3 separate regions of the Homo sapiens genome follow, and all the other regions are reported to be linked to region 3. The links are microRNA targets in miRTarBase. Many come from high-throughput screens and were not tested one by one. Region 3 holds a microRNA gene; each other region holds the end of a gene's coding sequence.
The links. Region 3 holds the annotated microRNA hsa-miR-302c-5p (UUUAACAUGGGGGUACCUGCUG, at 2,809-2,830, shown strand). A microRNA usually pairs through its seed, bases 2 to 8, with sites in the 3' UTR of a target mRNA and lowers its output. Matches are read on the target gene's strand: a 7mer-m8 pairs with bases 2 to 8, a 7mer-A1 pairs with bases 2 to 7 and ends in A, and an 8mer does both.

Region 1 (5,000 bases), not on the chromosome of region 3:
ATTAAGGTGTTCATTACAATGGAGGAGGTAAATTTAAAGAGTCACTGTATTTTTTGCCTTCCAAGATCACTTTAGGTGTCCTTAATGTACTGTAAAATCTTTCTCTTTTTCTGAACAAAGGCTGAGCCTTTAATGACCATCAGTTGTTAAAAAGACCAGTGCTAAGCTGGGCACACTGGCTCGTGCCTATAATCCCAGCTACTCGGGAGGCTGAGGTGGGAGGATTGCTTGAGCCCAGGAGACTGAGGCTGCTGTGAGCTGTGATGGTGCCGCTGCACTCCAGCCGGTGTGACAGAGCAAGACCCTGTCTCAACAAAAAACAACAAAAAGCTGGCTCCTCACCCTGATACAGGGATTCTATCTTCCTGTTGTGTACTAATGAAATAACTGTTCACTATTGTGGGTTCTACTTGCAGGGTTCAGACTAGGCAATGTGGTACATGCTATACAGGCAACTGAGCAGAGCATTCATGCCACTGACCTGGTACCTCGCTTATGCTTAACATTAGCCAACCTGAACCGTGTGATTTATTTCATCTGTGACACCATCCTCTGGGTGAGGAGCGTAGGTCTCACCTCTGGCATCAACAAAGAGAAATGGCGAACGAGGGCTGCTCACCACTACTACTATTCTCTTCTGCTGAGCCTGGTCAGGGATCTGTATGAAATCTCCCTGCAGATGAAACGAGTTACATGTGACAGGGCAAAGAAAGAGAAATCAGCATCCCAGGATCCTCTTTGGTTCAGCGTGGCTGAGGAGGAAACAGAATGGCTCCAATCCTTTCTACTTCTTTTATTCCGATCTCTGAAGCAGCATCCTCCCTTGCTCCTGGACACAGTGAAGAACCTTTGTGATATCCTGAACCCTTTGGACCAGCTGGGGATCTATAAATCCAATCCTGGCATCATTGGACTTGGAGGTCTTGTGTCCTCTATAGCAGGCATGATCACTGTGGCATATCCTCAGATGAAGCTGAAGACCCGTTAGGGTGTTTTTAGGCTTGGAACTAGTACCTACTTTAAAAGATGGCCTCTTGGTGGGACAGACATTTGTATAAGTCACAGGCCATGTCATACTGTGCTTAAGTTCTTGTTCATGTGAGCATTTAACAACCTGTGATGTGGGCAGAGATGAGGCCAAGAACGGAGAAGGGAGGAGCATGAAGAGTTGTATGTTTTTGGAGTGCTGGAGTGACTTGTGAATTTCTGAATATTTTCCCTTCATCTAACATTGATTGAACATCTCTTATGTGCATAGTGGGAGCTTAGTATTTGCTGAATGAATAAAAATTGAAAGGAAAAAATTTAAAAAGACCCAATCGCACTGATCATTGAACACCAGTATACAATAACTTTAGGGTCATATGGATCATTGGTTTCACGATTACAGTAGGTCTGGTGCATGGCACTCTCAGATCTAGTAGAGGCTCTGATGTCAGTAGCAGGATGGAGGAGAGCTGGGCTTACAGCCTCTCAACTTGTTGGCCCTTATACCATCACTGCACTCATGTCCTTGCTCTGTGCAGAAGTAGAATCAGAAAAGCATCAGGCACCTTCATGGTATAAATTGTGTCTATGGGTGCAGTGAATAAGCAAAAATCAGAAGCAGACCGGAGGGACTTATAAAAATAGGTACAGGGTCACAATGGGTGCCTATATGTAGCCTGTGACAGATAAGAAGCTGACAGTGAGACAAACAAAAAACTGAGGCTAGAGCCTCATTCCTCTGACTCCTAATCCAGTGTTCTCTCCATGCTCTCCCACTGTCTTCAGAATTGAGTAGAAATGTGATCCCCTCCTGAATCCTGTTTTTTGCCTCTTACTCTCCCATAATTTGGAAATTTCCTTGTCCAGTGGTTTATATTCTTTTCTAGAAAAACTAAAACTGGGTGGAGTGTGGTGGCTCACACCTATAATCCCAGCACTTTGGGAGGCTGAAGCGGAAGGATTGCTTGAGGCCAGGAGTTCAAGACCAGCCTGGGCAATGTAGTGAGACTCCTTCTCTACAACAAAGTGTTAAAAAATTAGCCAGGCATGGTGGAGTATGCCTGTAGTCCCAGATACTCTGGAGGCTGAAGCAGGAGGATCACTTGAGCCCAGGAGTTCAAGGCTGCAGTGAGCTTCCACCGCACTCCAGCCCGGGTGATAGAGCAAGACCCTGTGTCTTAAAAAAAAATTAAGACAGTATTTAGACTTATCAGTTAGATTGTTTTATTTAAATCCTTCTAACAATTTAGGCAATTCTACATTAATTTTCATCAAAATTTATCCAGTCAAAAAAATTTCATGAATACTCCAGATGTAAGAGAGTCACAATTTTCTACGATAAATCAGACATCTTATTTCTAGGGTGATTGAGGGAGGTGGAAAGCGCAGGAGGAAGCCAGTGAAGAGGACAATGGAATGCTGAGTCAATGACATTGACTTGTGTTCCTATCTGCCATCTTGGGTGTGGGTCTTTATATGTGGTTACAGATCCTTTAGTTTGAGGGAGGTGAGGTAGAGAAATAGGATGCCAGCAGGTAGGAGGCCGATGTCAGTCCTCCCAGCAAAGCTGTGTCATTTATCTGAATGGAAATGAGAAAATAAATATGTACTCAATAAGTCACATTTCCCAGAAATGTGATTGAGATTCTCAAAAAATAGACTCAGATTCTTGGCTGTCTGTTTAACCAATCACGATATGGGATTTGAGAAATAAAATTTAGGGAATTTTAAGAGACATGAAAGCTACTAGGTCAGGGAAAATAAAAAGCTTAAATAACTATTTTTATTGTCCAGATCCTCTACTGTAATAGATTAACTATGTTCAATAAATTTCTAGACAAAATTGACTTGTGTCTGTGAGTGTGTTCTGGGAAGAGAGAAGAGTTAAACATAAGGCAATCCATCAGATAATCCTCAATCAGCCTACACAGTTGGTACAGCGAGCTCTGGGCTAGAAGATCCAGGCTGAGGAGGAGGATGGAGAAAGATTGAGATGTAGAGCCTCTGGGTTGAGAGGGACCTCTGAAATGAACTCATCTAGACTGCTGCCATGGAGATGGTGCTCTACAGTAGCCCTGTCAATCGCTGGCTGGCTTCTGCCTAGGTAAGTCTGCCTTGAATTCATGGTGGTATGTTATGTTACAGTGGTATCCATCTTGGTACTTTTGTCCTCTGCAATGGTGAGTGGTGGGGAGTTTGGGAAATACTACCTCTTCTAAGAGGTTTGTGTAAACCTTAATGGTGTCCTGGTACCACCCTGTGAATCCTTCTTTGTAACTAATGTTTTCCACCCCAGAGCCTCCACATTCATGAGGGATGCCAAAAATCGAAGAAGTTCTTCGTAGATGTACAGCCCAGCACATTCACAACTGAGCATTGTTGCCTGACAATTCATTTATTCAACAATGAATGTTTGAGTGCCATGCATGGTTTTGGGTATCCACTTGTGAGCAAGATGACCTAGGTCCCTGCTCTCACTTGGTGGAGGGGTAGGGAAAGCAGGTAGGTACGGAGAAGGAAAGAAGATAGAACTCTATGCCCTGCAAGCTACTGCTAGAAAACTAACACTTCTGTCTTCCCTCGGGACTCTCCTAGGCCCTTTCACCACTTCTCACCTCTCACCCACATTCTGCACTCCCAGCTAAAGCAGCCAAAGGACTATTTGATTTGGCAGAGCTTTCAGGCACAAAGCCCTATGTTCCCTCTGGCCCAAAGCCACTACTCTGAAGGCTGAAAACTGCCCTTTGGCTCAGGTTGCTGTCCAGTCACAGCCTCACAGATAATTTGTGCTGAACCTTGAGGTGAGGGCAGAGGCCACTTCTTTAAATACTTTGTCTTCTCTACTGCCTTACATTTGAAAAGCACAGGTTGGATCAATAAGTATTAAACGTATAGCGTATTACTCCTTTGAAGCCTCCCTGCTTGACTCCTCCCTTTCCTGCCTTCTCATTCCCTACTTTATTGCATCACAGATACGTAATTTATTACCAAGGATCTTTCATAATTCCCCACCCCTGCCTCTTTCTTCTCTTGCCCACACTGTGTGACTTAACAGAGTCAACAATACATATAATTCCACCAGCAACAAAGAAAATAAGTTTTGTTTTCCTATTGTCTGTTTTCATGAAGAGGCCCTTCTTAGTTAATCTGAAAGCTATGGCTTATACCATAGTCCTCCATCATATCTAAAGCCAGGAACTAGAACTTGGGCTTGTGCTTGAGTCCTGGGTAAAGAAGGGTTGAGTGGTGCTAATTCTTGGCTGTCTGGGTGCTCTTGATTAGTGATAGAATCCTAGTCAACACTGTCGCTTATCCAGACCCAGGAGAATAAAAATCTACTTGGCTCTCCTACTCTTCATTCTGGTAGCATCTTAGGCCAGGTAAAGTTCAATAAATTTTTTTGAATTCTAAGAAGTGGGAATTCCTCCCTCAACTCAAAGGCTATATTGTCAAAAACTCAACTCCCGGCTCTGTCGCTTCTTCACTGAGGGCAATTTATCTCCATAATCAAAGATGAATACATTCAGATGAACTCTTCTGTGTGGGTTTAAATTTTACTGTTCAGCATTCAGTCTTGCTAGTAAATAAGAAAAGATGAGAGAAATGGATTGAAAACTCCCACAAGACCCTCTATGGAAAAGGAGCCAAAAGATTGCAGAGGTATATAGAACTTTAGAGCTTTTGAGTTTAATGATGTCTATCCCTATACCTTCTTTCTGGAAAGCAGATTTTTGTGAATTGAGGGCAGGAACATTACAGAACTGATGCTTCATGGCTCTGGAATACTAAGTCCTCTGAGCCTGGATCTCCTTCAGCTCTGCCACCTACCTCCTTGTTTGCTAAATGTCCTTAGAGAAGTTAGGATATGCCTGGGGAACCCTGGGTCATATAACCATGACAACTGGCTGACCCTGTTGTCTCTCCCTCTCTGCCCTCCTCTAGCTGGGAGGTGGAAGCAGCATTGCCCAAGCCTCCCAGGAGTGACAGGAATTGTTTCTGCCTGAGGAGACACT
Region 2 (5,000 bases), not on the chromosome of region 3:
TGCATCTTGTACGTATTTTGTTAGGTTTACATGCATGTCCTTTTTAGCAGCTGTAAATAGTATTGCATTTTAAATTTTGTGTCTATATGTTCATTGTTAATATATAGAAATGCAATTTAATTTTGTATGTTTATCTTGTATCCTCTAAGCTTTGCTAAACTTAGTTCTAGGAGGGATTTTTTTGGTCATTTTCTGGATTTGGGGATTTTGAGGGTTTTTGTAGATCCTTGGAATTTTTTGCACATAAACAATCATGTTATCTGCAAATAGGGACAGTTTTATTTCTTCTTTTCTGATCTTTAAATAAAATACCTTTTATTTCCTTTTCCTGTCTTATTGCACTCTCTAGAACTTCCAGTAGTATATTGACAAGAATAGTGGTAATAGATGTCATTGTCTTGCTCCTCATTTTAGGGGGAAATGACTCAGGCCATGACTTTAAGTATAATGTTAGTTAGCTGTAGGTTCTTTGTAGATTTTTTTTTTAAGACATGGTCTCACTTTATTGTCCAGGCTGGAGTGCCAGGGCACAGCTATGGCTCACTGCAGCCTTAGCCTCCCAGGCTCAAGTGATCTTCCCATGTCTGCCTTCAGAGTAGCTGGGACTACAGGTGCACATCACCACACCCAGCTAATATTTTAAAAATTTTCTGCAGAGATGGGGTTTTGCCATGCTGCCCAGGATGGTCTCAAACTCCTGAGCTCAAGCGACTGCCTGCCTTGGCCTCCCAAACTGTTGGGATTACGGGTGTGAGCCACCAAGTGTGGCCTCTGTAGTTGGTGTTTATTTATTTTTAGTTTACTAAGAATTTTTATCATAAATTGATGTTGAATTGTATCAAATGCATTTTCTGCATCAATTGATATCATGTGATTTTTCTTCTTTAGCTTCTTAATATAGTGGATTACAGTGATTGATTTTCAAACATTGAACCAGCCTTGTATTCCTGGAATTAACCTTACTTAGTCATATTATGGTGCATAATTCTTTTTATATATTGGGGAATAATCCTTGCTAATATTTTGTTAATGATTTTTGATCATATTCACAGAGATTTCATCAGTAGTTTTCTTTTTTTTTGCTGTTTTTGTCTGGTTTTGATGTCAGAGTAATTTTACCTTCAAAATATGAATTGAGAAGTATTCCCTTCTCTTCCATTTTCTGGAAGCAATTGTATAGCATTAATGTTATTTCTTCAAATGATAGAATTCTCCAATGAAACATCTGAGCCTGGAATTTCTTTGGGGGAGGTAATTGTGAATTCAGTTTTCATAATAGTTATAAGGTTATTCAAATGATCAATTTCATATTGGCTAAATTGTGGTAGTTTGTACTTTTTGAGGAACTGGTCTATTTCATCCAAGTTGTTGTCAAATTTATATGTGTAGAACTGTGTGTTGCATTCCCCTATTATTCTTTTGATGTTTTCAGAGTCTGTAGTGATAAATTCTCTTTCATTCACAGACTAAAACCGTTTGTCCCATTAGTAAGACTATGGCAAACTACAGACAATTCATTTTTAACACTAATATGTCGATACTTAAATATTTTCCACAGATGCAGATGGTATATTTCACATGTGTTTGACATAGTGATTTCATATTATAATTTTTGTCGGTCTATAATTCCAATCATAAAAGGTAACAGGGTCAGGTTCATTACTTTTCCATATATAATTACAAGTAATAAAATGGCAAAATTAGTAGAAGGAATTGCAAGAAACATGAAGGTGGGATTAAAAGTATCTCTGTAAGATTGAAATGCATTTGAAGTTGTTCTTGAGCAAAATAACCAATGCTTCAAAATATAGCTTGAGTTTTAATAATAGTAACAAGTTGACATTTTTGCTGTAATTCATTTATGGTTACCTGAGAATCTGGACTTATTTCTCTGCAAATTAGCTTTGCCTTACTGGCTAACCCAAAGCCTCTCTAATGCTTTTAGAAGCTTGACTCTCTTCAAAGTCCTCTGTGCTAGATGTACTCCATTTATTTGCCCTTCCAGATCTCCCCCTCTAGTCTTTTCCATCCTCCTCTGTTCCCAGGAGGCTGACCTCCAGAACTGCATCAAGGAGCTCCCTTGCTCTCTGTCTTCAAGTTACTTGGGCCACTGGAGAATCCCAGCAGGAGACAGATAGGGGGAGCAGAAAAACGTTGGGTTATGAATGCCCCTCACTGCCTCTTAGTTGAGTCAGCAGGGCTGATTGCATTCCTCCACTACAGGCCACAGCTCCTAAAAGGCAGCCCTTGCACACAGCTCCCTCTCCAGATTCTGTTAGCTGTTCTTTCCCTTTCTCCCTTAATTGGCCCCAAGGCACTGCATTCTCCCTCCTGATTTCCCTAAACTCTGCCCACACCTTTGTAAATAGTCCCTTTAATAAACTCACCTTGAATTATCCAGTTTGATTGAGCCAATGTGTTTCCCTGATACATTTTACAAATGACAGTTTCCAAATCCCAAACATCAGACATATTCTGTCAATTGTCACAAAGCAATAATCATTTATTTTTTAAAGTCGTTTACAGGTATTTATAGGCAAATGGATTTCCACTTTAAGACAGATAAAGAATGTGAGATTAAAATAGCATGCAGACATTCCTTTTATTGTTTCCTTTTGCTTTAACTGTGTCTGTGGTATTTTTAAGTGCTGTATTTAACTACTATACTATTACAGTCAAATACTGATTATCCATGTGTACTGCTGACACCATTTACAGTCATTGCATCTATTTGTATCAGGAACTCTTGCTACCAAGTTAATACTCTGCTCAGCTAGAGTGAGACCACAGCCCTGCTCTGTCTCTGATAAAAGTGGTTAGACTACCCATACATTTCTACTGTCTATACTCATGCTGATCCCCTTTTTAAGGACAAACGATCAAGACCTAAGGTATATGGAAAACTGGTGAAAAATACATTAATTCTAGTTGTGTAAGAGGAAACAAATCCATCTAAAAAATTAATGGCAGTAGAAATAAAAATCATAAGCCTTTACAGTAAAATATTAGAGTGCAGTATGCTTGGTTTCTAATGATTTCTATCCAAAAGAAGTTTTATTTAAAACTTAGCAAATATATCACAATCACAAAGACTAAGTTGTATCTACATAGCCAAAATGAAATGGAGTCAAGGCAATATCCAGATAACTCAAGATTAAAAAAAAAAACAAAAAACATTTTTCTTGGAAAGGCAAGAAAAGGACATAAGTAGTTTTCTGCTACTCAAACCAAATCCACTTTTATCATCATTCCCTATATTCCAAAGTTTCAGTATTTTAGACTGAATGGTTTGGAGTCTAAACTATGTGAATGTTGATCTCAGGTGTGCCATTCATTCTGTGAGTATGGACACAGACTATAGAAGAAAAGCTTAATTTTTTACCTTAACTATACAGACTGGTTATCAATAACGACCTCTAACAAATGAAAAACTTGCTTTTTAGAGACTCATACTATAAGTTAGGACTGAAGTAGTCCTCCAAATTCACCTAGCCCATTTAGCTCATTTTATTGCCAAGGAAACTGGAACCCAAACAGATTCAGCAACTTGCTGAAGGTCACACTGGTAAGACTCAGCGTAATGCTTTTCTGTACACCATGCTTAATCACTCTGTTAGTTTACCAGTTGGTCTACATGTGGAAAATCTTTCCAAGTGCTTCATTCAATATGTTTTTTTTTCCTTCTGCATTTTGTCTGATCATATCTATACGAGGTGCTAAGGATATATGTAGGTGAGAAACTATGATTCAGTGTCAGCCAATCAAGAAGAAATTTTACTATAATTTCAAATAGATTCTGTACTTTTACTAAGAATGAAACCAATTTGAATAGTAAATATGAAGAATACTGGTTTTGTTTGCCCTCTTTTAAATCCATGCACTCATGAGGTTTTTTTTGTTTTTTTTGTTTTTTGTTTTTTGTCTTTTTAGCAGGAAGAGGGGGAGAATATAATGAAATCAGAAATGACTGATAGATTTGGCTTCTTCAGCTTGTCACATGCTGTATTTAGACAGTCTGAATAGCAAACACTGAGAAATGCTAGGCCAGAGGATTTGGGCCCCAATCCTTTTAACCAGCAAATGGGACAGTCCAATGAAACAGACAGCCATGTTAGTGGCTTTTGATTTGATTCCACTGACATACACACAGTTCGAATTCAATGTCATATTTATTTTAACATTGCAGTGAAAAATGCTGCTAAACAGAAAATGTAATAAAGTCAATAAGGCTCAAGAAAATTGCTTATTTTTTGTAGCAAGAAAAGCTTTTTTTTTTGGCAAATGGTTCTATAGTCATAGAACATGAAGATACTTAGAATTAATCTCCCAATATGAAAATGTCCCCCAAATTATCAAGTTGAAAGGCACATACCACTGCCCCAGCAGTTCATTCAAGTTGTCGTTAGCATGTGAAATTTTAGTTGTGCTTTTAGCTTGTTATCAATGCAATATGGCCTTAAAAAGTGACATCCGTGCATACATATAATTTCTTTTAAAATGACCAACCCTCTTCCTCTTTTCTGATTTTCATTTCTGAAGACTAATTTTTGTTAGTTCTTCATTTTATAGAGGACCTGGTCCATGATGGTCTTGGAAAGATGCACTTCACAGTTTGTGCTCTATTTTATCTACAAACAAAGTTTAAATTATCTTTGTGTCCTAATACAAAATGGGGTTTCTTGAAATATCAGTGTGATGGTGCTTCAATACTGTCATTTGTTGGAATGCAAAAGTGCTGGATTATTATCTTTTCTCACTGGTTGTTTAAGGCTTACTTCGCTTCCAGAGGAGATGATTGGCAAACTGTTATCCATATGGTATCTGATAAGGTGGCCGACATTATCAAATACATGATCCTTGGTCCTCACCTTGAAAAAGAAGTACAAATATATTTAGGTTAAATTATAGTAGTTCTCCTGAAAGATATAAATAATAAGGGGGAAAATGCCAGATATATCCCTAAAGTAGATACTTTGCTGAAAAAAGAAAAGGTACTTTTT
Region 3 (5,000 bases):
TGTCAGTATAAGAAAATACTTAAAATATGTGGTATGTTACAGAGCATTTCACACTTTTTAAAAAGAAAAGGATTCACTTAAATGGGTGACAGGCAGGGTAAGGGTAAATAAGATATGGTACTCTCACCTAAAAGTATATAATTTCCCTAATAGAAAGTATTGCTACCAATGTGGTATAAAAGGCTACAGAAGATAGACTGTATAAAGCGAAAAAATTATAAACCTGTATGTACAGCAATTTGTAGCGTAAATTATATAGAAGTATGGGTTTTTTGGCACATGCGTGAAAAATTTTAAGAGGTTTTCAAAAATATTTTACTTTTCTATAATTAAAATTTTAAAGATAATCAGCACATAGGTAATACAAAAAAAATCAGTGCCAATAAAAATAAGCAAAAGTTACAATTTTCCTATAGAGAAGGATGTTTAAACTGTGCTTACATATAGATTTAGTGAGGAATTTCAGCCTCTAGATTTTGCTTCAAAATTAAACCTAAGAGTTACCATGGAATTAAAACTGTACAGTAGTTTACCATAGGGAAACAAATTCTAACTTGATTTGTTTTATCTTCCATATTCAAAACATTTTCACACAGGGAAATAATAAGAGAAGAAAGGAACAAATACCCTAGGGGCTCAAAATCATTACCCGGACTTGTTTCCTGCCAGGTAGAGGCTCTGTGCTAATGATCTTCACAATCACTCCACTCACGAACTGTGGTCCTGTTGCATTAACTTTCTCCTGGGTGCGACACTCTTCCCTGTTGGCTGCTGATTAGAAAAGGAAAAAGACCAGGACTAAATCTCTTACACTTAACAACAATTTAATACTTAGGAGGACTACCTTAGAATAATTCCTGAGGCAGATTTAAATAATTTAAAACGTATTTAATTTTAAAGTAAACAATTAAAGGTTATATGTCATACTGCTTATTTCAAAATACCATGAATAAAACTCAGAAAGTTTTATTATTCTACATGCAAATTGTTACTGCTAGAAGAGCATTCGTAAAGCCTTTAAATTTGCCCCTTCTCCCTGAACAAAGGAACAGTAAATTTTTACTCAATAAAGTTAAAAAAAAGTTAAAGGATACTGTGTTTTAAATACATTATTATTCAAACGTGAACATTTATTTTTACAAGAAATGAGAATTTAAAATGTATCCTAATTTTGAATTCATAGGAATTCTGCTTTAACTTGTTCCTGCTTGTGGTGCATACTACAGAATGAAATTAACAGGTGAGAAACTACAATCTTCATTCCTACAAACTTGCTCAGTCTGCAAACTCTGCACTCATGTGCTTGATGAAAACTGTAGAGAAAACTCAGGTTATTTAAAAAATTGTTTTAAATGAGCCTTTTAAATATTCTTATATCAAGAGTAAGTAACACATCTGGATAACTTAACAAATCAAGAATTGTTCTAATAATGAAATAGAATAATCAAGTTTTTTAAAATTAAAATTTATCTTATAACAACTCAGAGATAGCATTTACATATATAAGTACATTATAATGTTGTCAAAACTATCAGTGATCTTTACTTTTTTCATTTTTCATTCCAGTGTTTTGAGGTACTCCACTGTCTGTTTCCATTTCTGACTCTGATTTTATTTGGGATATTGTTTTTTTTAAAGAAGCCATGCTAGCTTTTTGTAGCGCTAAATACTCTTTTTTCAAATCCATCCATTCGCTCCTACAAGGAAAGAAATGGTGATAACAGATGACTAAATATAAAAAGTAAATAGGGAAATATCTAAATATATACATTCACAATGACTTGGAGCAACTCCTCCACCAACTTTCCTGTTTCTTTAAACACATATTCAAAATATTTCCTAGGTTCTAAAGACATTTAGCAAAATAAGCTAAGGGAGTTCCTCTTCCCCCAATATTCAGATTAAATGTTTTAAGATTGCCAATTAAATTTTTGAGTGTCTGAAGTATTTTAATTTATAAAAGTAAAATTTTAGCATTAATTCCTTAACTAGTAACATTTACTAAATCAGTCATCTCTGTGGGAAAAGGGCGAGATTAAAGATTTGTTAAACTGCTTCCAATTTGAGAGATAACATTCCTTAGTATTTACTTGAATCAAAAAGAATTTCTAAGTAGAACAAAACACCCCGTGGAAGCAATCTATTTATTTACATACATTTAACATGTAGATGCTTCTTCAAACAGAGTTCCTCCAGATAGAAACACAATGCCTTTCTCGGCTCAGTGGGAGCACTCATTGTTACCCTAATCTATGCCATCAAACAAGCAGATAGGAGATTTTCTTTTTCTTTTTCTTTTTTTTTTTTAAGAGGAAGATATCTTGTGGTAATGGTTTTAGCTGTTAACATTGACATCTGTATACTTCAAAAAAAAAAAAAAGGATCCAGACCCACCCAGGATCATACATTCCCTGAGAGCTGATACATTAAAATAACAAAAGGCCCTTGTAATGATTCTCTGAGATAAAAAGGCAAAAGGAATTCAAGAGTTAAGAATAGTATAAATAGAAGTGGCTGAAGTCCCTGCCTTTTACCCTTCTGGAGGAGAACACGAATCTTTGGGAACTAGTTCAGGAAGGTAAAAAAATTTTTTTCTTCTAAAGTTATGCCATTTTGTTTTCTTTCTCCTCAGCTCTAAATACTCTGAAGTCCAAAGAAGTTGTATGTTGGGTGGGCTCCCTTCAACTTTAACATGGAAGTGCTTTCTGTGACTTTAAAAGTAAGTGCTTCCATGTTTTAGTAGGAGTGAATCCAATTTACTTCTCCAAAATAGAACACGCTAACCTCATTTGAAGGGATCCCCTTTGCTTTAACATGGGGGTACCTGCTGTGTGAAACAAAAGTAAGTGCTTCCATGTTTCAGTGGAGGTGTCTCCAAGCCAGCACACCTTTTGTTACAAAATTTTTTTGTTATTGTGTTTTAAGGTTACTAAGCTTGTTACAGGTTAAAGGATTCTAACTTTTTCCAAGACTGGGCTCCCCACCACTTAAACGTGGATGTACTTGCTTTGAAACTAAAGAAGTAAGTGCTTCCATGTTTTGGTGATGGTAAGTCTTCCTTTTACATTTTTATTATTTTTTTAGAAAATAACTTTATTGTATTGACCGCAGCTCATATATTTAAGCTTTATTTTGTATTTTTACATCTGTTAAGGGGCCCCCTCTACTTTAACATGGAGGCACTTGCTGTGACATGACAAAAATAAGTGCTTCCATGTTTGAGTGTGGTGGTTCCTACCTAATCAGCAATTGCGTTAACGCCCACACTGTGTGCAGTTCTTGGCTACAGGCCATTACTGTTGCTAATATGCAACTCTGTTGAATATAAATTGGAATTGCACTTTAGCAATGGTGATGGATTGTTAAGCCAATGACAGAATTTAAACCACAGACTTACTTTGATAGCACTCTTAATGGTATAACTTCTTCTCCCATTTTATGTCTCTCTTTATGTTTTTTCTTATGTTTCCTTTTTGTTTTCAAGAGAGAGCTATCTTTTAGATCTCCAGTATCCTTTTCCTCTTCAGTAGAGATTTCTATATCTTGAAATAAATAAAAAAGCTCTCCGTTAAGACATGGGGCTGTGAAATGGGTGAAACAGAAGCCAATTAAAACCTAATTAATTAAAAACTAATTAATTAAAATTAATTAGTTTTATCTAATTAAAACCTTGTAGTTTTACCTCTATTTTCCTTGGAAGCTTCTGATGCTTCCTTAATGATGTCTTTCTGAATAATTTTCTTTACTTTTGATCGGGGAGCTAGGGATTCTGCATCTTCAGAGCTGCTTCTCTTCCTCTTCCCTGTTCTGACTTCAGGTAAGCTAGATGCTTCAACTCTGTCCCGTTTTTTCTTTTTCTTTGAGCACTGCTTTTGGGGTTCAGTGGACTCAATGTCAGAGCCCTCAGATGTGGGTCTGGATCTTTTCATTTTACTGATGCTGGTGTTGCTTGTGTCCATGTTTTCTTCTTTGGCTTGGATATTGTCTTCCTTTTTCATTCGGCCTTTCTTCTTCTTTTTCTTTTTCTTCTCTTCTGTAAAAGTGCCATCATTATTAGTTCATCTTACTTCAACTACACCTATTTAAATATTGAAAAATACTCACCCACAACTCTTAAGGCTGGAATGGGCTTATTTTTCACTGTTTTAGGAAATATGCCAGGTTTTCTTGGTGCTTCTTCTGGTGGGTTGTTAAGAAACTGAAATGATTGCAAAAGTTACTATTTTAATACTTGTTTTCTTTTCTTTCTTTTTTTTTTTTTAGGATCTGGACTTACCTCAATTGCTTTTGCTGCTTGTTCTTTTGTTTCAAATTCCACAAACGCAAATCCCTTTGGATCTCCAGTAGACTTATAATGTGGTATACTTATATAAACAACATTGCCACATTTCCCAAATACTCTTTCAATCCAGCTGTGATTAACATTTTTGGGAAGTAACTCCTATTATAAATTAAAAGCAATATTAGAGTTTTTCACAATCAGAATGTCAATAAATTTTTAACTTAATTATATTGTTTCTGTGCCAGTTTCTGACTGGGGACCCGGGTTCTTAAGCTTACCACATACACTGTGCGTTCATCCTCATCCTTTGGTCTTTCCCCCAGAGGTTTTTTCCTCCGGATTCTGGTGCCTTCCAAATCAAGCTTTAAAATAGTATATTACATTAATAAAACTAATATTATTTATAATTGTAAGCTATAATCATATAATAATCATTACGTTAACATTCTTTATAATTATAAACTATAAATATAAACAGTAGTTATTCTTGATTCTTACCTCTACAACAGCTGAACTTCTCAATGCTCTGGCAATTAACTTCCCATCAGTAGTCAATTTTTTCATTTTGTTAAAAGACACAAGTAGTGATATATCAACATCTAAAGAAAATGAAAAAGTTAATATGTTAGTGTATCAGCAGGATTAATTCAATTTGGTACAATTTAACCTGCCCCTCAGGCCCTCAGGCTCGGTGGCTCATGCCTGTAATCCTAGTACT

Region 1: miRTarBase lists PEX11A as a target of hsa-miR-302c-5p. Seed matches in the 3' UTR shown: 7mer-A1 at 2,015-2,021.
Region 2: the mRNA of SHC4 is a reported target of hsa-miR-302c-5p. Seed matches in the 3' UTR shown: 8mer at 4,174-4,181.

The regions. Positions count from the first base shown.
Region 1 is chr15:89,679,365-89,684,364 of GRCh38, reverse strand. PEX11A (peroxisomal biogenesis factor 11 alpha) reads left to right here. Exons shown (of 3, transcript NM_003847.3): 3 at 417-2,830. The coding sequence ends at 988. It overlaps PLIN1 (perilipin 1), which reads left to right and starts at 4,998. Exons shown (of 9, transcript NM_002666.5): 1 at 4,998-5,000.
Region 2 is chr15:48,821,259-48,826,258 of GRCh38, forward strand. SHC4 (SHC adaptor protein 4) reads right to left here. Exons shown (of 12, transcript NM_203349.4): 12 at 2,483-4,868. The coding sequence ends at 4,713. Among named protein-coding and RNA genes, the nearest start is that of CEP152, 13 kb to the left of the region's middle.
Region 3 is chr4:112,646,232-112,651,231 of GRCh38, reverse strand. It overlaps MIR302C (microRNA 302c), which reads left to right and starts at 2,802; the gene lies at 2,802-2,869. It overlaps LARP7 (La ribonucleoprotein 7, transcriptional regulator), which reads right to left. Exons shown (of 13, transcript NM_016648.4): 3 at 4,781-4,881; 4 at 4,561-4,644; 5 at 4,277-4,441; 6 at 4,105-4,198; 7 at 3,683-4,033; 8 at 3,398-3,542; 9 at 1,546-1,697; 10 at 650-771. MIR302CHG (miR-302/367 cluster host gene) reads left to right here and starts at 1,181. Exons shown (of 3, transcript NR_146092.1): 1 at 1,181-1,240; 2 at 2,633-2,719; 3 at 4,264-4,512. MIR367 (microRNA 367) reads left to right here and starts at 3,291; the gene lies at 3,291-3,358. It also overlaps MIR302D, MIR302A and MIR302B. RefSeq lists an enhancer at 1,639-2,361.